Homo sapiens: one gene and its partners. The protein of the gene in region 3 binds, or shares a complex with, the protein of the main gene of each other region. Each region holds a gene or a part of one and is shown on either strand. Other genes may lie near its edges. The genes, in order: CNN1, ITPR1 and PRKG1.

Region 1 (7,680 bases), on a different chromosome or scaffold from region 3:
CTGGGGGTGAGAGATGCTATTATTTTACAGCAGGTGGTCAGGGAAGGCCTCTCTGAGAGGTGATATTAGAGCAGAGACTGAATGAAGTTGGGGAGAGGCCATGCAGGCATCTTGCAGAAATGTGTTCCAGGTGGCAGGAACTGCTATTGTAAAGACCCTGAGGTGGGAACATGTTTGGGGACTCAAGAAACACATCTGTAGCCCAGCGTGGTAGCGGGTGCCTGTAATCCCAGCTACTTGGGAGGCTGAGGCTCCAGAATTGCTTGAAACCAGGAGGTGGAGGTTGCAGTGAACCGAGATCATGCCACTCCAACCTGAGCGACAGAGCGATACTCTGACTCAAAAAAAAAAAAAAAAGGAGAAGAAGAAGAAGAAATAAGGAGAAGGGAGAAGAGAGAAGGGAGAAGGGGAAGAAGGAGAAGGAGGAGGAGAAGGAAGAAAGAAGAAAGAAGAAGAAGGAGGAGGAGGAGAAGCAGCAGCAGAAGAAGAGGAAGAAGAAGGAGAACAAGAAGAAAAAGAGGAAGAGGAAGAAGAAGAGGAAGAAGAAGGAGAAGGAGAAGGAGCAGCAGCAGCAGCGGAAGAGGAAGAGGAAGAAAAGAAAGAAGAAAGAAGAAAGAAGGAGAAGGAGAAGGAGAAGAAAGAAGAAAGAAGAAAGAAGAAGAAGAAGAAGAGGGAGAAGAAGAAGAAGAAACAGCACATCTGGAGGGACTTGGAAGAAAAGGTACAAACAGTGTTACCTGGGAGGGTGGCTTGGCTTCTCTGAACCTTGAGTTTCCCATCTATAAAATGGACCTATGAGTTTCTACCCTCAGAAGGTGATGGTGAGGATTAAAAGAGATTGTGGCTGGCATGGAGTGAGTGTTCCCATAACAGAAGCCTTTAGGAACAAGAGCCTCTGCCAGATTTCTGGATAGGAAAGCTTCGTGAGGAGGGAGCTTGCAGAGCAGGATGCCAAGATAGGCCGGTGCAGAGCAGGGCTTTGACTTTCCCCAAAACACACAGACAAACACGTGTGAGTGTGGGTTTTATTTTTATTTTTACATTTTTTGAGTCAGAGTCTCACTCCCGTGGCCCAGGCTGGAGTGCAGTGGTGTGATCTTGGCTCACTGCAACCTCTGCCTGACATGCCGGGTTCAAGCAATTCTCCTGCCTCAGCCTCCCGAGTAGCTGGGATTACAGGCATGTACCACCATGCCCGGCTAATTTTGTATTTTTAGTAGACACGGGGTTTCACCATGTTGGTCAGGCTGGTCTTGAACTACTGACCTCAGGTGATCCACCCGCCTTGGCCTCTCAAAGTGCTGGGATTACAGGCGTGAGAAACCACGCCCGGCCAAGTGTGAGTTTTAAATGGTTCTGAGCATCAGGAAGGTTTTAGGGGGTCCCCTGAAGTTGAGGAGAGGCATGGCTTTCCTACAATGACTGTCCTAGACCCTTCGGGAAACCGTGCCTCTTACAAGATCCTACACTTCTCATTTAGATGGTAAACTGAGGCACAGAGGGGCTAGAGCCTGGAAAATGCCAGAAAGGAGCGAATAAGGGATGACACTCGGGTGTCTACTGGGATTGGGGCCTCGATATGGGATCAGCCCCCTCTAATGCCTCTACCCCCATCTACCAGACAGAGACGCGAAGAGAGACGGACAATACAGCGACAGCGACATGAAGAGAAACAGAATGACTCAAAGACCAGGCACAGAAACAGAGACACAGAGACAAAGGCAGAGACAGAAAAAGGCTCAGCGACCCAGAGACGGAGATACAGAGACACAGACCTACTACAATCAGAGGGACAAGGCAGTCCCCGAAAGGGCTGCCCCCTGGGGGTACCCGGGGCTGCCCCGTTGGGGGGCACGCCAAGAGCTCCCCCACCCCGCCCCCGTCGTGCCTGGGCCGTGACTTCAGAGTCCGTGCAGATTCTATAAATGGCCAAGAGGCCGCGGGCCGGGGGGCGGGGCCGAGTGAGTCATCGCGTGACGTCACCGCCGCCTGGACCTCGCCAGGTCCCGCCCCCGCCCCTCCCGGGCCGCCAGGGGGCGCCGGCTGCAGGTCCTCACATGCGCAGTAGCGAACTGCGGCCCCCGAGGGCCGCTCAGTTTGGGAGGGATCCAGGAATCTGCGCGTTCGAATCCCGCCCCTGCCACCCTCGAGCTGTGTGACCCGGCCATTCGGCGTCACCTCTCTGTGCCTCGTATAGACCCACCTCATAAGGCTGTCGTGAGGAATGAGTTAACAGGCTCAAAGCTCTTAGTACGTAGCAGGTGCTAATTGTTAGCTCATTTTATGTACTTTCTATTTTTTCTTTTTTTTTTTTTTAAATAGAGACGGGGTCTCGCTATGTTGCCTAAGCTGGTCTCGGGTCTCGAACTCCAGGGCTCAAGCGATCCTCCCGCCTTGGCCTCGTATTTTATGTATTTTCGTGTATGTTCAACATATCATGACATGCCATCAACTAGCACATTGCCTTAGCTCAGTGGTTGGCAAACAGGGGTGATCTGCTTCCACCCCGACCCCAATCATGGGACATTGGCAATGTGTGTAGACATTTCTTCTTTTAATTTTTCTTTTTTAGAGACCATGGTCTTGCTATCTTGGCCAGATGGTTCTCAAACTCCTGGGCTCAAGGGATCCTCCCACCTCAGCCTCCTTAGTAGCTGGGACTACAGGGTCCTGCCGCAGTGCCTCAACATTTCTGTTTATTAGGACTAAGAGAGTGCTACTGGCATGTAGCAGGTAGAGGCCAGGCATGCTGCTTGAAGTCTTACAATGAATGCCCAAGGCAGCCCCCCAACCATGAAGAATTATCCAGCCTCAGCTGTCAACAGTGTGGAGGTTGAGAAACCCCACCTTAGCCTCATAGTTGAGGTTCATGGAGCATGGTCTCAAATTCTCCTCTGCCCCTGGCCTGCTGTGTGACGCTGAAAAAGTGATTCCAAGCCCCCGTGCCTCAGTTTCCCCACCTGTAAAGCAAAGTACTTGTATTAATAATAACAGTGTCAGCTGGGCACGGTGGCTCACGCCTGTAATCCCAGCACTTTGCAAGGCCGAGGTGGGCAGATCAACTGAGGTCAGGAGTTCGAGACCAGCCTGGCTAACATGGCAAAACCCCGTCTCTACTAAAAATACAAAAAATAGCCAGTCGTGGTGGCAGACACCTGTCATCCCAGCTACTTGGGAGGCTGAGGCAGGAGAATCGCTTGAACCCAGGAGGTGGAGGTTGCAGTGAGCCGAGATAGCATCACTGCACTCCAGCCTGGGGAATAGAGACTCTGTCTCCAAATAATAATAATAATAATAATAATAATAATAATAACAGTGTCCATCTCTGAGGGCGTCATGAGAATTGAATGGATATATGTACAGAGTTGGAACATGGCCTGACATAAGGGCTGTAGTCTGTGGCATATTGCAGCCATGCCATTAGCATGTGACCGATAAACTGCATATCCTCAACATATCATTAGTGTGTGGCAGGTTGCAGACATGTCATCCAAGTGTCACAAACATGGCCTTGCCATGTGGGGCATGATGTGGGCATAGCATCCACCCCTGTGGTCCAGGGGTGAGATCTGGCTGGGTAGGGCTGTTTGACAGGGACACAGTTCACGGCCTGGGACTTGCCAACAAAGTCACCCTGTAGTTCAGGTGACACACAAGTGGATGGGGAGGGTGAGACCCAGGATCTCTTCTCCCCCAGGTCCTTATGAGGGGCTGGAGGAGACAGAACTGGGGTGCTGGACCCTCAGCATAAAGAATGCTATAGGCTGGGCATGGTGACTCATGCCTGTAAATCCCAGCGTTTTGGGAGGCCAAGGCGGGCAGATTGCTTGAGCCCAGAAATTTGAGACCAGCCTGGGCAACATAGCGAGACCCCGGGCAACATAGCGAGACCCCATCTCTAAAAAAATAAAATAAAATTAGCCAGGTTGGTGGCACAAGTCTGCAATTCTAACTACTTGGATGGGCTGAGATGGGAGGATCACTTGAGCCTGGGAGGTCAAGGCTGCAGTGAGCTGTGATTGTGCCACTGCACTCCAGCCGAGGGGACAGAGTGAAACCTTGCCTTAAAAAGACTGCTATGGCCCGAGTCCCTCTGCTGTGCCGGGCACTGTGCTGGGCATGTAACAGGCATATTCTTCTGATCTTTACAACTCTCCCATGAGGCAGGCACTATCGTTAGCCCATTTTACAGATGTGGCCATAGAGGCCCAGAGAGGAGAAGGGGCTTACCTAAGGCTATAGACTGTTGGTATCTGGAGATAAACCCGGGATGGTGCTCACTAAACTACCTTGGGTGTCAGTCCTGCTTCAAGACTCCAGAGAGATAAAGAGAGATGACCTCAGAGACAAAGAGACTCAGACCCAGCCAGAGGCCCAATGGACAGTGGGAGGGGTGGGTGGAAGAAGGCTGGTCTCTGTCTGACCAAGCCCCCCCAGAATAACGCAGGCTGCCCCCCTAGGTGGAAACAATGACACAATCAGCTCCCAATACCAAGGGCCTGACATCACAAGGGGAGGGGAAGGCAGCTGAGGTTGTGGGGGGAGGTGCCCCGCCCCTTGGCAGGCCCCTACAGCCAATGGAACGGCCCTGGAAGAGACCCGGGTCGCCTCCGGAGCTTCAAAAACATGTGAGGAGGGAAGAGTGTGCAGACGGAACTTCAGCCGCTGCCTCTGTTCTCAGCGTCAGTGCCGCCACTGCCCCCGCCAGAGCCCACCGGCCAGCATGTCCTCTGCTCACTTCAACCGAGGCCCTGCCTACGGGCTGTCAGCCGAGGTTAAGAACAAGGTAGGGCTGGAGGGCCTCCCTGGCCTGGCCCACACGTCCTGCCAGGCCAGAGCCCTGAGCTTGGGGTCCCTTGAACCCCCTCCTGCCTATCCTATGTGACTTGGAAACTGAGAGGGGAAAAGGGAGTGATATGGGATAGGGGCTGCCTGTCTCCCCCTGAACATCCCGGAGCCCCCAGCTATGGTTGGGGCTGGAATGGGGGGGCACACAGCCACACATAAACAGAGGGGGTCAGTCCATTGCAAAGATACCCACCTGATCAGTCTTCTGTTAACCCTTCGTGTTCTTGGGGGGAACAACATAGGGGGAAGACTTGTTGATTTTTCCATATCCCCCGGCCTGACAAAGAAATTGGGGAGCGCTTGAGTGCTGGGGTACCTGGGAAGTGACGCCGTGAAAGTGTGGGAGATCCTGAAGACAGAGGGGGACGGTGAAAGGCAGGAAGCGGGCATCAGAAGTGCGGCAGGGGTCTCCTGACTGTGGAGCTAGGAAGATACCTGGACACCACCTTCATGCTATGGTTGGGTAAACTGAGGTTCGGAGAGGAGAGGCAAATAGCTGGGGTCCCAGGTAAAGCAGGTACAGCGCTCGGACCCTGGACTCACCCCCCATACACCAGGATGGGCTCAGCTTCTCCCAGCTGGAGAACTTTAAGTTTCCAGCCCACTGGAATCGCCCCAACAGTATTGCCGAGGGAGGAGTTCCTGCCCCATTTGACAGAGGGGAACACTGAGGCTCAGGGTGGCTTTTCCCAGGGTCCCATGGTGAGGAAGTGGGGGACTGGGTTGGAACCTGGGTCGAGGGATCTCGGGGCTGGAGGAGGGGGCTGGTGGGGGGCGGGTCCTCGGGCGAGAGACAGATCCCAGCGCCGCCCTCCTCCCCCCCAGCGCCGGCCCCAGAGCCGCGCAGAGCCGCGCAGAGACGCCGCGCCTTATAAGGCGGCCTCGGGGAGCCCGGGCCACGCTATATAAGGGCCGGTTTGCTTTATAAAGCCGGGCTGGTGGCGTGGGGGGCGGCAGGGCCAGGGCCAGGTGAGGGGGCCGCCCCTCCCACCTCCCCCCACTCACCCGGGAGAAGAAGAGGCAGCCCGGTCCCCTAGGGGCTGGGAGCCTGGCTGGGCTTGGGCGGAGGGTTCTGGAGAAATGGGAGTGGAGTGGGGGAGGGGGGGGACAGTGGAGAGAGGGAAAAGCAGGGAGGTGGGGGGAGAGGCAGACAGAGATACTGGGAGCCTGAGACACCCTAGGGACAGACGGGGGAGGGCGAGCCAGGAGCGAGATAAGACCTAGACAAGGATGGAGGGGCAGGGAGAGGAGACAGAGCCCCACCACCCCCACCCCAGGCAGGAAACCTGGAGACAGAGAAAGACCTAGAGAGGCAGATATACAAGACCCAGGAGCCCTACCCCTGGCCAGACAGGGACTAGCCACCTAGAGAGATGGGGACCCAAGACTGGGCCAAGAAAAGACAGCGCTGGGGAAGAGAGAGACAGAGGAGTCGGGGGGATAAGAGGGAGAGAGACATACAGACGTGCAAGGGGTGGGGGCTAAGACAGAGACAAGCCCCCACCACTAACCAGAGACAGAGCCCTGGAGCTGAAGACCTGGGGGACACGGAGAGACAGAGATGTATGACCAGCACTCCTCTGCAAGCCAGCACCCAGGGACACCTCCTTAGACATCCTTCTTCCCTTCCTGAGGTGCCCTCTCTTCCAACAGGGGGCACAGAGGGGGCAGGGCTAGAGGAAGAGAAGCCCCAAGTTTGGCCTGGGCGAAAAACCAGGGTGCCGGGTGCCACCCCTCTAGCTCAGAGGATCCAGCTCCCCACACCCCACCCCTCATCTACATTCCCTGGTGCCAAACCTCAGAATGCCCGGAATGGCCCCCTGGGCAGGTGCCACCTCAGCCCTGGCTCTCAGCCCGCCCCAGCCCCCATCCCCCAACTATGGATCTGGGGCAAAATTGCCTTAGTTGGGAAGGACGAGGGAGATCAGGCTCTAGGAAGTTCAGACAGGACCCAGGGAGCCCAGGCTGCCCCCAATGCATCCTCACCCCTTTCTCTGTGCCCCCTGCCCTCCCCTCGCCCCAGCTGGCCCAGAAGTATGACCACCAGCGGGAGCAGGAGCTGAGAGAGTGGATCGAGGGGGTGACAGGCCGTCGCATCGGCAACAACTTCATGGACGGCCTCAAAGATGGCATCATTCTTTGCGAGTGAGTGAGGCTCTCGAAGCCGAGACCCTGCAACATCCCCCAACTCCATGCAGCCCCTCAACCCCCAAAACAACCATGATCCTGGAACTGAGTTGAACACTTTCTATTGGATACCTTTGGGGTGGCCAGTAATCATTGTGCCCATTTAACAGGCACAGAAAACTGAGGCTCAGGTGAAATGCATTGCACCAAGTCCCACGTGGTTTCAAGGGAAATGACTCTAGAATCTTAACCACCATGCTATATAGGGTAGGCCCATCTGTGGCCGCCAGAGTCCCCAGAAAGAGCGGTCACAGCTAAAAGGCAGCAGCCAACAGCTGTTCATGGCTGGCTTGGTGATGTGAGGAGAGATGTGCAGCAATAATTAAAGGAGGCCCTGGTTTTCTTTCTGTTTTCTTTTTGTTTTTTTGAGATACAGTCTTGTTCTGTTGCCCAGGCTGCAGTGCAGAGACACAATCTCGGCTCACTGCAACCTCCGCCTCCAGGGTTTAAGTGATTCTCCTGCCTCAGCCTCCCCAATAGCTGGGATTACAGGCACGCACCACCATGCCTGGCTAATTTTTGTATTTTTTTAAAGTAGAGATGGGGTTTCACCATGTTGGCCAGGATGGTTACGAACTCCTGACCTCAATTGATCCACCTACCTCAGCCTCCCAAAGTGCTGGGATTACAGGCACGTGCCACCAT
Region 2 (7,297 bases), on a different chromosome or scaffold from region 3:
TACACTGAAAGTACAATCTGCTCTTTGAATAATTCAAATCAGAACAGAAAATCCTTTCAAGATATCATTCTTATCAGGCAGGGAAAGTTCTTCATGTTCTAAGTGAATTACTCTGGCTCTTGCCTTGAGACCCATGAAAGTCATTTGGGGTTGACAATGGTATCTATTTAAACCAAGTGATTGTCTTTTGGAGGGAATTGGCATCTTTTCTTTAGGAATGAGAAGTGGAATGGTTGCTTAGAAAAAAAGAGATAGATGAACTCCACAGAAAGATCAAGAGTCTTTTCTTCAAAATATTTTTAAGTGAGGAAGATCAGGGTGTTGGTATTGCGGGGAGGGAGGAGAGTGGGCAGAGAGAAAGATAAAAAAGAAACCTTTAATCCAATGGTGTGCAACCAACTGACTTCCAGAGGGGGGAATATCACATGGCTTTTCAACTCATTTATAAAGATATCATGGAAACTGTCTGATTTCTTCATGAGCAGCTCTTAGAAAACAAACAAAAATAAAACAAACACCAAATATGAACAACAGAAAAAAACAGCCAAAATAAAAGTAGGCCTGGAGTTAGGTTTCTAGGTCAAGCTGTCTTTGGCTACATCTAATTAAGGAGTCTCCACAGGGCCAGTGTCTATCTTGTTTACTATTGGTTTGATTTTTAAAAATAAAACACATTGCATTTGCAGGCTGTCTGTTAACCAGAAGTCCATGCAGTTTTTTTTTTTTCCATTTTTGCTGTTTTAAGTTTGTGCATAGCTCAATTGATGAATGCAATTAAGGCTTGAAGTCGGTGATGTGAATGACATAACTTCTATGATTCCTTACAATTCTCTTGGTTTCTGTGGTTCTGAGATGATTGCTAATGAGAATAAGCCAGATACACCACTGAAACCGTCACCCATTCAACTTTGAGATTTCTAAATTGGATGTAGTTTAAGGCACATGGTGTGGTAAATCTATTTAACAGACTCTAAGACCTGTTCAAGTTGTGTGCGATTCAAATGTTTTATTCTTTATTCAACAAATTTCTTGAGCACCTGCTATGTACTAAGATGTATTCCAGGTGCTCAGGATATAGCAATGAACAAACCATCCCGTTCCCAAGAGGCTTACATCTCAGTTGGTGGGAGGCAGCCAATATAAATAAACAAGTAAGTATTATAGTATTAGAGGTAGTAAAAGCTATGGAGAAAAAGAAAACTGGTTAAAGGGGGAACAGAAAATAACAAGTGGAGAAATTAGATCCCTTGTGCATTGCCGGTGGGAATGTAAAATGGTGAAGCTGCTGTGGAAAACAGCATGGCAGTTACTAAAAAAAATTAAACATAAAATTACTATATGTCCCAGCAATTCCACTTCAAGGTATATACTTTAAAAAATTGAAAGTAGGGACGTGAGCAGATATTTGTACACCTGTGTCAGTAGAAGCATTATCACAGTAGCCAAAAGGTAGAAACAACACAAGTCTACTGATGAATGAACAGATAAAATGTGAAATATACATACAATGGAATATTATTCAGCCTTAAAAAGGGAATTCTGACACATGCTACAATGTGGATGAACCTTGAAAACATGCTAAGTGAAACAAGCCAGAAATAAAAGGACACATATTTTATGATTTTTCTTATAGAGGCATCTAGAGTAGTCAGATCCCTGCAGACAGAAAGTAGAATGGGGATTGCTGGGGGAGATAGAAGACAGGAAGGGGGAGTTAGTGTTTATTGAGGATAGAGTTTCAGTTTGGAAAGATGAAAAAGTTCTGGAAATGGATGGTGGTGATGTCACACAACAGTGTGAATGTACTTAGTGCCACTGAGTTATAACATTTCAAAGTGGTATATTTTATGTTATGTATATTTTACAGTAATTTTAAAAAGCAACAAAACATGATGAGGGGTATTAAGGGAGTACTCAGGTGGGGATTAGATCTTTACTACATGACATCTCAGCACAGATCTGAAGGAGGCAAACGAGTTGACCCTGTAGCTGTCAGGGAAAAAGTGTGTTCCAAATGTCAGAGCAGCAAGTACAGAGGCCCTGAGATAGGAGTGTTTGTGACATGTTGGAGGAAGGAGAAGAAGGCCAGGGGAGAGTGCTAGGAGTTCAGGAGGGAGAGGGAGTCAAGGTCCAGACCTGTAGGGACCAGATTTTGCAGGTCAACAGTGGTTTATCTGAGGACTTGTAAACTCTCACGGAATTCTCAGTGTGGTTTTCAACATCACAAAACTACATTGTCCTTTCTGAAGAGACTCTGGTAAGGTTGGCAGGATCACATACCAGATGGGAACTCGATAGGGGGTAAAACCCAGATTTCTGGACTGTCTGGTTAATGACAGGACTTACCTGGAGTTGTAATTCACTTCAGTAGAAAAGGAAAGTTTGACAAATAGGTGAACGTACAGTTGACTTGGAGAGCAAATTGTAAGAACATAATGATAATCCTGGAGTTTCAACACAAACCTATGTCTTACCGCCACCCTGCGTTGTATCCAGTGTCGTTTTAAGAGATATTTACAAGGAGGACTAATATTCTGCTCTCCAGCATCCTTGAGGAATTAGAAGCTTCACATCAGTGATTCTCCTTAATAAGTGAAGTGGACCCCTGCACATGTGCAAACTTAAAGCAAACCTCAAATTTTGTTACTTATTACATAAGATATACATATTCATGTAGCACACACCTTGGACTCGGCTACTCAGGGGACGGAGGCAGGAGAATTACTTGAGCCCGGGGGTTTGAGGCTGTAATATACTATGATTGCATCTGTGATAGCTACTGTACTCCAGCAAGACCCCATCTCTGTTAAAAAAATTTTTTTAAGGAGAAAAAGATAGCATATTCATTGTAGTGCAACATTAGGAAATAAAGAGGAGCAATGAAACAAAACAAAACAATTCAACTATTAGAGATTAGGGTTTCAGGCTTTTCCTCTAAGTATGCATATGTAAAATTTACGTATATATTTAAATTTCATAAAAAGGGACTAACACAGTATCTCTCATTTGGTAAATTACCTTTTGTACATCTTGAACATCTTTTTAATAAACAGACATCTGTGTCTCATTTTTCTAAATGTGCCTACCCCTTTGATGGCCTTTCATTTTTATTGAGTCTAGGTTTATACTTCCCTGATATATATACATATATAAATAGATATTTGTAAAAAATACATAATATAATAATTTTACACATACACGTATTTAACAGTTTGAATTAGGATCCAAATAAGGTAAATACATTACAAATGGTTGATGTTCACTAATCTCTGTATTTCCTCTACAGATCTTTTTTCCATGCATTTTTTTTGTTGTTATCGAAGAAACTGGGTGATACACGTCTCCACAGTTTAGACTTTGCTGACTGCATCAGTGCAATGTGGTTTAACATGTTTCTGTATCCCCTTGGGGTACCATAATTTGGTAGTTAGATGTAGAGGCTTCATCAAAGTTAGGTTCTTTTCTTTTTTAAATTGAGAAGGGGTCTCACTATGTTGCCTCGGCTGGCCTTGGACTCCTGGTCTCAAGCAGTCTTCCTGTGCCAGCCTTCCCAGTAGCTGGGACTCCAGTAAGTCTGCTCTGTAAACTTTGCTTAGGTGGGTGTGAGATGTTGGATGTCTACTCTTGTTATATGAGCACCCCTTGATGCTCACTACCTGAATCCATTAGTTCTCTCGTCAGTGAGAAATGGGCTGGTAAAGTTCCTGAGATTTCGACACAGCCCTTGTTGTCTTTGCTAGCTTTTTTGATTTCTGTATAACAAGATGTTCCAGGCTCATCTTCTCTATTTCTTATCCCAGACCAAGAATCGGCCTTTTCTCCAAGGAGCCTTTGCTCTTTTAAGAGGGAAATTTTGTTTGTTTTGTTTTTTTGAGACAGAGTCTTACTCTGCTGCCCAGGCTGGAGTGCAGTGGCATGATTTCAGCTCACTGCAACTTCTGCCTCTTGGGCTCAAGCTACCCTCTCACCTAATCCTCCTGAGTAGCTGGGACTATGGGCATTCACCACCACACCTGGCTAATCTTTTTTGTTTTTTTGTAGGGACGGGATCTCGCCATGTTGTCCAGGATGCTCTCAAACACCTAGGCTCAAGCAGTGTTCTCACCTTGACCTCCCAAAGTGTTGGGATTACAGGCGTGAGACCATCATGCCTGGCCAAAATGGTATTTAGAGATCTCCACCTAGGGCCAAGTAGGTACTCTTGTCATCCTCATCTTACAGACGAGAAGACAAATTAAAATGAAGAAAACTTAAAACTTGAATTTCCTAGGTGAAAGTATTTCCAAAATGCAATTGACCTATCCTTGCCTTTTTGCAAAGAATTCTGAATATAATCTAAACTTTTTTTAAAAATTGGTTTTGGGTTTAGCCTTAGTGTCCTGAGGCTAAGACATCATTGTTCTCCCCAGATGAGCAGGAATGTTACTCTTGTTCTGTATCCGTGTTTTTCAAACTCTGTGGAAACCCACTAAGAGGTTGTTAAATCAATTTAGTGGGCCTTGATGAACTTTTTATTTTTAGTTTTTGAAACAGGGTCTTGCTCTGTTGCCAAGGCTGGAGTACAGTGACATGATGTTGGCTCACTGCAGCCTCAACCTCCCAGGCACAAGCGATCCTCTCACCTCGGTCTCCTGAGTAGTTGGGACCACCAGCGTGCCCCACCACTCCTGGCTAATTTAAAAAAAAAATTTTTTTTTGTAGAGATTGGGTCTCCCTGTATTGTCCAGGTTGGCCTTGAACTTCTAGGCTCAAACGATCCTCTCGCCTTGGCCTCCCAAAGTGCTGGGACTGGAGGTGTGAGTCACCGGGCCCAGCCAAACTTTTTTTTTTTTTAATGACATGCACTAGAATAGAAAACATGGAAGTGTATTTCGTGGATACTTAAAAAGAACTGTGTATGTTGCAACAAAATTCTTTGTCTCACATACACAATGAACATTGGGTTGTAAGTTCAATAGTTTTCTTACTCTGAGCTGCAGTCAAAAGTTTGAGAAACACTGTACTACATCTTTGCCACTCCAAGTGTGGTCCCCAGACCAGCGTTACTGACATTAACTGGGAACTTGCTAGCAATTGCAGACTCTCAGACCCTACTCCACATTCAATGAATGAGAACCTACATTTTTGCAAGATCCTCAAGTGATTCACACACACGTGAAAATACGAGAAGATATGCATTGGAGGATGCCTGTCCCTGTGCTTTTTCAGTCCTTGTCATTTAGTGGTTCCTTTGCTTTTTCATGGCTAGCTCTCACCTGTTCAGGCTGAAGCTGACCTTTGTACTTTTCCCCTGCAGCCTTATTTTCAGTGAAGTGGAAAGGTAGGCTAATCACCAACCTGAGGTGAGAGTAAGTAGTTTTCACATGATTCCCTCTCCAACAAACATGGGAACTTTGATGCTTACATTTGGGGGAGCTTTTATTCGCTGTTCACATGAAGGCAGAAAGAGACCAGAAGGCACATGTACCCCTACTTAGAGTTGTGAAGTCACTGCTGTTCACCTGCTGTCATGGGACAATGAGGAACTTATGTTTTATCATACTTTCTGACCTGTCCCATCAGCAGAACTTCTGGATGGCTTGATATAATGCGGCTTATCAGAAGAAGATGAACATAAGAAAAATATCACTAGTCTCCAAGTTTCTTGCTGTTCTTTTGCATTTCAGAAGGAGCTTTGTCTGGGAAATGATTTTCTTTTGCAAGAACAGCTTAAAAGCATCCCAAGCACATATTTCTGAACAGAAAAAGCTGATACGACACCCAGACGACGGACATTCATTTGTTTGCCTTGTCGTGTGTGTGTATGTTGTACCTCATGTGTCCCTCCCCACCCCCGTCTGTCCACCTCGCCAGATCCTTCTATTCCTTAGGGCCCAGCCCAAACGCTTCCTCCTCCGGGAAGTTTTTTATGATACTTGAAAATCTGTCATTTGAAACTCCAGGGCCCTAAAACCTATTTTCCTTTTGGGCCTTTTGTGTTTTTTTAACTCATAAGAATACCTGGCACACAGGAAGTGCTTACACAATAAGTAATTTGTATATATGTTTTTTCTCCCTTTGAAGGCTGCTTGGAAAAACTAATTTTTTGTACCCCTCTCTCCTTTTTTTTTTTTTGAGAAGGAATCTCGCTCTGTCACCAGGCTGGAGTGCAGTGGCCTGATCTCAGCTCACTGCAACCTCCGCCTGCCAGGTTCAAGCGATTCTCCTGCCTCAGCCTCCTGAGTAGCTGGGTCTACAGGCATGTGCCACCATGCCTAGCTAATTTTTATATTTTTAGTAGAGATGGGATTTCACCATGTTGGCCAGGATTGTCTCGATCTCTTGACCTCATGACCTGCCCACCTTGGCCTCCCGAAGTGCTGGGATTACAGGCGTGATCCACTGCGCCTGGCCCCTGTACCCCTCTCCTGATTAAATATTTCTTGAACTGGCATCTTTCTTTGAAAAGCCTTACAGCCAGGCATCGTGGCTCACGCCTGTAATCCTAGCACTTTGGGATGCCAAGGTGGGTGGGTCACCTGAGGTCAGGAGTTTGAGACCAGCCTGGCCAACATGGTGAAACCCCATCTCTACTAAAATTACAAAAAAAATTAGCTGGGCATGATGGTGGGCACCTGTAGTCCCAGCTACTTGGGAGGCTGAGGCAGGAGAATTGCTTGAATTCAGGAGGTGGAGGTTGCAGTGAGCTGAGATCGCACCACTGCACTCCAGCCTGGGGGGCAGAGTGAGACTCCATCTCAATAAAAAGAAAAAAAGAAAAGCCCTTTATTGCAGAGGGTGACGTGAGGACCATGTAGAGATATTAAGCATTTCCTTTTGATAGCTTTTGAGGTGTTGTTCAGTACAAATCTCTGCAGGACATTTGTCTTGGGAAACTGTTGAGTATTCATAAAAGGGAGTGGAAAAATCAGGTAGTGAAACCAAGCTGCTTTCAGGTCATATTGGTATTGCCCTGGTGAGCCACAGGATGGGGACTCCGCAGTACCGAGTGTTGACTGCTTCTTGGGTAAGGGGCAAAACATGGAACATCTGTGCATCTGTTTCCTCTTCTGTAGAATAGGTGTAAAAATAAAAATACCTGCTTCGGGTCATTGCTGCCGAGTTGTCTAAAAACAAATGTTTGCAGAAGGCGTTACAGATAAAAAAACAAAGCAAAACCTATCTATGTCCTAGAGCAGTGGTCTCAATGGGGACAGGGAGAGTGATTTGTGTCCTCCAGGGGACATTTGGTATCGTCTGGAGATATTTTTGGTTGTTCTATCTGGCAGGCAGGGGTGGGGTGCTACTGGCATTTTGT
Region 3 (3,661 bases):
GTCCATATACTTGTCTAACTAAGAAAGCAGTACAGAGGAAAACAGGAACCTGATTTTTTTAAAATAAATTTTAAATAAAATAGAATTACTACAATTCTGCAATTTCATACTACCTAAAAAAGACTAGATTTGAAAATGTCAAGCTGATTTACTTTATTCACATGGAGAAAAGAATCCACAAATTAAACTGAGTCCTTCACTGGCATGCCAGTTGACTATTATTAGCTGTCATAAGTAACTCAGCCATTTGGAAGCATTTCCTGGACAAAATTACATTATACCTGTGAAGAAAAATATAGAAGCTTTCAAGCTGTCATTCTGTTTTGGCCCTGTGTGAATTTGGTATATTAAATTGACGCTTGCTTTTTTTTTCAGTAGAGTTTTCTTTTTAATCAATCAAACGCCTACATTTCTGGAAGAAAAAGTCCAATTAGATCATTACACCTTAACTAAGAAGGCAAATCTTATAAATTTTGCTTGAATTGTTCTTACTCAAAACTACCTTAGAATATGGTATCTTATGAAAATATAATATTCTTAAAATTTTGGAGGATAAAATGAAAAGGGTATAAACTTCAATTAGAACTTTAATCCTAAAATATTGTTATTCTTGTATTTTTGGAGTTTTCCGTCCCTTACAATTTCTCCAAATTGGTCTATTCCCCAAGATATCCACTGTTTTCTACAGATTTTAGAATATAAAATTAAACATATCAACCTAAAATCTAGCTATGAATGTTATTTCAAGAGTTTTATATTTTTAATTGGCTTTTTAAAAATATGTAATTCCAATATTATAGTGAATGTTCAGTAACTTTTGTTGAAAGATAATGTGGTTTAGGCTTGCTAAAGAAAGGCTTGCTAGAATACTAAATTTACCTTGTTATTTGGAAAGAGAATCTGCTCCTATAACGTTTTAAAAATCCCCAAAGTCCCAGAGATTAGCACTTGCTATGGATTTTGGAACTATGGTTCAAGTCTAAGACAACCAATATGAATAAGTTCAATGGAGAAGGAAGAAGTAGCATTCAGCACAAGAAACTGTAGATTGTTTCTCCCACTTGTTACTGCATCTTTGTTCATTTCACCCATAGCATTGCATTTGATGTCTGAAGTAATTACCACAAAATAAAGGTAAACTACATCTTCCAAGATGTACCAACAGAAAACATTCGTCTAATTTTGTCAACATTGAATTTTTAGGATTTAAATCTTGTCTTAATGAAGACTCTAGGGCTAAAATTCATGGTCAGTTCCATAAAATGCATCTCACTTTATTTCTGAATTTTTCACAACCCCTCTATTTTCTTACATTAAAGAACATCTGGATAAGTTAGAATAGTGCCAACTTGTTTGATTTGTTATATGATTTTCTTGTTAATGTGTTGAGTATGGGAAATAAGGGCTTTCTGTGTGTCTTGACTCACAGGAAAACTGAAACTGCCAAGGGAAGCAACATTAAAACAACTGGGATAGATTGAATACATTTGAAAAAATAATTTCTGGAAAAACGCTATACATGCTTTTTATGTTTATATCTTCTTTCTTATTAAGACATGAATCAGATCCATGTGGCATTCAAAACAAATTTATTTTGGTTATATTCTTTACAAGTCATAATTTTTACCTAAAATTGTGGAATATGCATGTGAATTACACATGTGTAGTAATAAACTCAACTATTGAATTTTTCCTGTTTCATTTCTAAATGACTGAACTGATGGTAAACAAATTTAATGAAGTCAGCTACCATGTTGAAAATAAGGATATTAGAACTGATTTCATACAATAGAGGTGATCTGTGCATTATCCATAACAACGTTTTCTTTCACTATAGGACCACAGACAAATATTTATGTAAATAGGTATTTTTGTGTGATATTTTGTGGTACATATAACTTTTTTTAGTGTTTCACAGCATTATTATTTCATTTTATTTGTATTGAATAATGTTTTTAGGTCCAAGTAGACTTGAATTAATGTCATAATTGTCAGTATTATTGAAAATTATGTCAACTGTACTGTTATTCATCTGTCCCATAGTTTAGAACATGACCTGGCTATCTGGCATTGTTGCAAGTGCCTTAAATTCATGGCATCCTATTAAAAAAACAAATTTGGTGTTATGCTGCATGACAAAGACAAACACACCTCAAAATGTTGTCCTTTCTTAGCTTGCTGCGTTTTACAGTTCTTTCTGCTAACAATTTATAAGCCTTTATTATATAATATTGATGAATTACAGAAATGATGAAGTTGTTCTCTTATTTCTGTTAAATGTACCAGAGCTGTGTATCTGTTAATGAGATACAGCGTCATTTCTGTGAAATGTATAAATGTATGTGCAGGTCAAATTAATATATGACATTCTATCAGTCTGTATACAGGTATTCCTGTTTTGCTAAGCTGTGCAGATTCTGTAAAAATAAATTAGTGCAGTCAAGTTCTAACATATCTCATTTTATAGACTCCATTGACAATGGTCCAACCGAAAAGAAAAATTGGAAATGACTGCTAACCAGACCTCGTTATGAAACCAATGATGAAAAAGTCACTTGGTGCACCTCTCAACAAAACAGGATGCTTTTTCCGAGTTCTTGTATATGCAAATCATTTACGAGGCAAGTTTTCAACAGACCTAGAAAGCAAAACATTGAAAGTGTGTTGTTAGCCCTCCTCTCTGCCCCTGAATCAACAGACAGAGCTCTGGGACCTTGGCAATGACTCAGAGGTTGGGGCTTTCTGAGTAAAGGGACATTTCTTTAAGCATCATCTATCAAATTTATTTCAATGTATGATGTTTTTACAACTGGTCAGTTCTTTTGTATTCTTACAGCTATGGTTATTTGATTGTCCTCTTACAATTTGTTCTACATGAAAGAGTTCTTTGTTAGTCAGAATGCAACAAACTGTCATCAAATGGTCATTGACCACTTGCACTCTTTTGATGTAGATTAAAAACTTTTTCATAAATTTACCTGCTTTGATTTGCTCTGTATTTTTCCTGCAGCTGTAATTGCTGAGTGCCTGTTGTATACTTTATAGAGTTGAAATAAAAAAATAATTACTTTTGAACTTAGTTGATGTTTAATTCCAGACAAGATTCCAAGAATAGAATTGGTATATCATACTAGATGAAATACCAGGTAGTGCTGTTGTAGAATGTCACTATAACAAAGTAGGAAATACCTATAATCCAAGCATCCCTCATGAAATAATATACTATATTATAATCTAATATAAAACTAATCCAACAAATTGGTTTTAAAGAATTCATAGGAATAATGTTGGGCCATCCAGTGTGAAAAGCAAAGTGAATATAGATATTCACACAAACTCAGAAATTAGCAGATTTCTGAGCATGACCACCACACAGTCCTTTTTTGGGCTATCCCTAGTCAAACTCTGTACTAGGCAAAACAATCAAAGGGACAATTCTTGTATATTACTACATCCTAGGAGGAAATGATTTCATATGAAAAGCAACTTCATGAGTCTTTGTCCAAGGATTTTTCACCTGATTCCTTGGCTTCATCATATGCACAAAGAAGAAACATTTGGGGAACAATATGATTACAACAAATTCAACTCTCCAAAGCCTAGTTAAACATATTCTTTCTACATCCCTTTGTCCTTCTCTGCAGTAAATGATGCACACATG

The links.
Region 1: PRKG1 (region 3) and CNN1 share a complex: the UniProt entries of both Homo sapiens proteins name them as parts of the cGMP kinase signaling complex.
Region 2: PRKG1 (region 3) and ITPR1 share a complex: the UniProt entries of both Homo sapiens proteins name them as parts of the cGMP kinase signaling complex.

What each region holds. Positions count from the first base shown.
Region 1 is NC_000019.10:11,534,205-11,541,884, forward strand, and holds the start of CNN1 (calponin-1), read left to right. Parts: upstream 1-4,646; 5' UTR 4,647-4,723; coding exon 4,724-4,786; intron 4,787-5,090; exon of another isoform or gene 5,091-5,365; intron 5,366-5,780; exon of another isoform or gene 5,781-6,221; coding exon of another isoform or gene 6,222-6,482; intron 6,483-6,871; coding exon 6,872-6,993; intron 6,994-7,680. UniProt on the Homo sapiens protein: Thin filament-associated protein that is implicated in the regulation and modulation of smooth muscle contraction. It is capable of binding to actin, calmodulin and tropomyosin. The interaction of calponin with actin inhibits the actomyosin Mg-ATPase activity.
Region 2 is NC_000003.12:4,496,346-4,503,642, forward strand, and holds part of ITPR1 (inositol 1,4,5-trisphosphate-gated calcium channel ITPR1), read left to right. Parts: intron 1-7,297. UniProt on the Homo sapiens protein: Inositol 1,4,5-trisphosphate-gated calcium channel that, upon inositol 1,4,5-trisphosphate binding, mediates calcium release from the endoplasmic reticulum (ER).
Region 3 is NC_000010.11:52,295,276-52,298,936, forward strand, and holds the end of PRKG1 (cGMP-dependent protein kinase 1), read left to right. Parts: 3' UTR 1-3,075; downstream 3,076-3,661. UniProt on the Homo sapiens protein: Serine/threonine protein kinase that acts as a key mediator of the nitric oxide (NO)/cGMP signaling pathway. GMP binding activates PRKG1, which phosphorylates serines and threonines on many cellular proteins.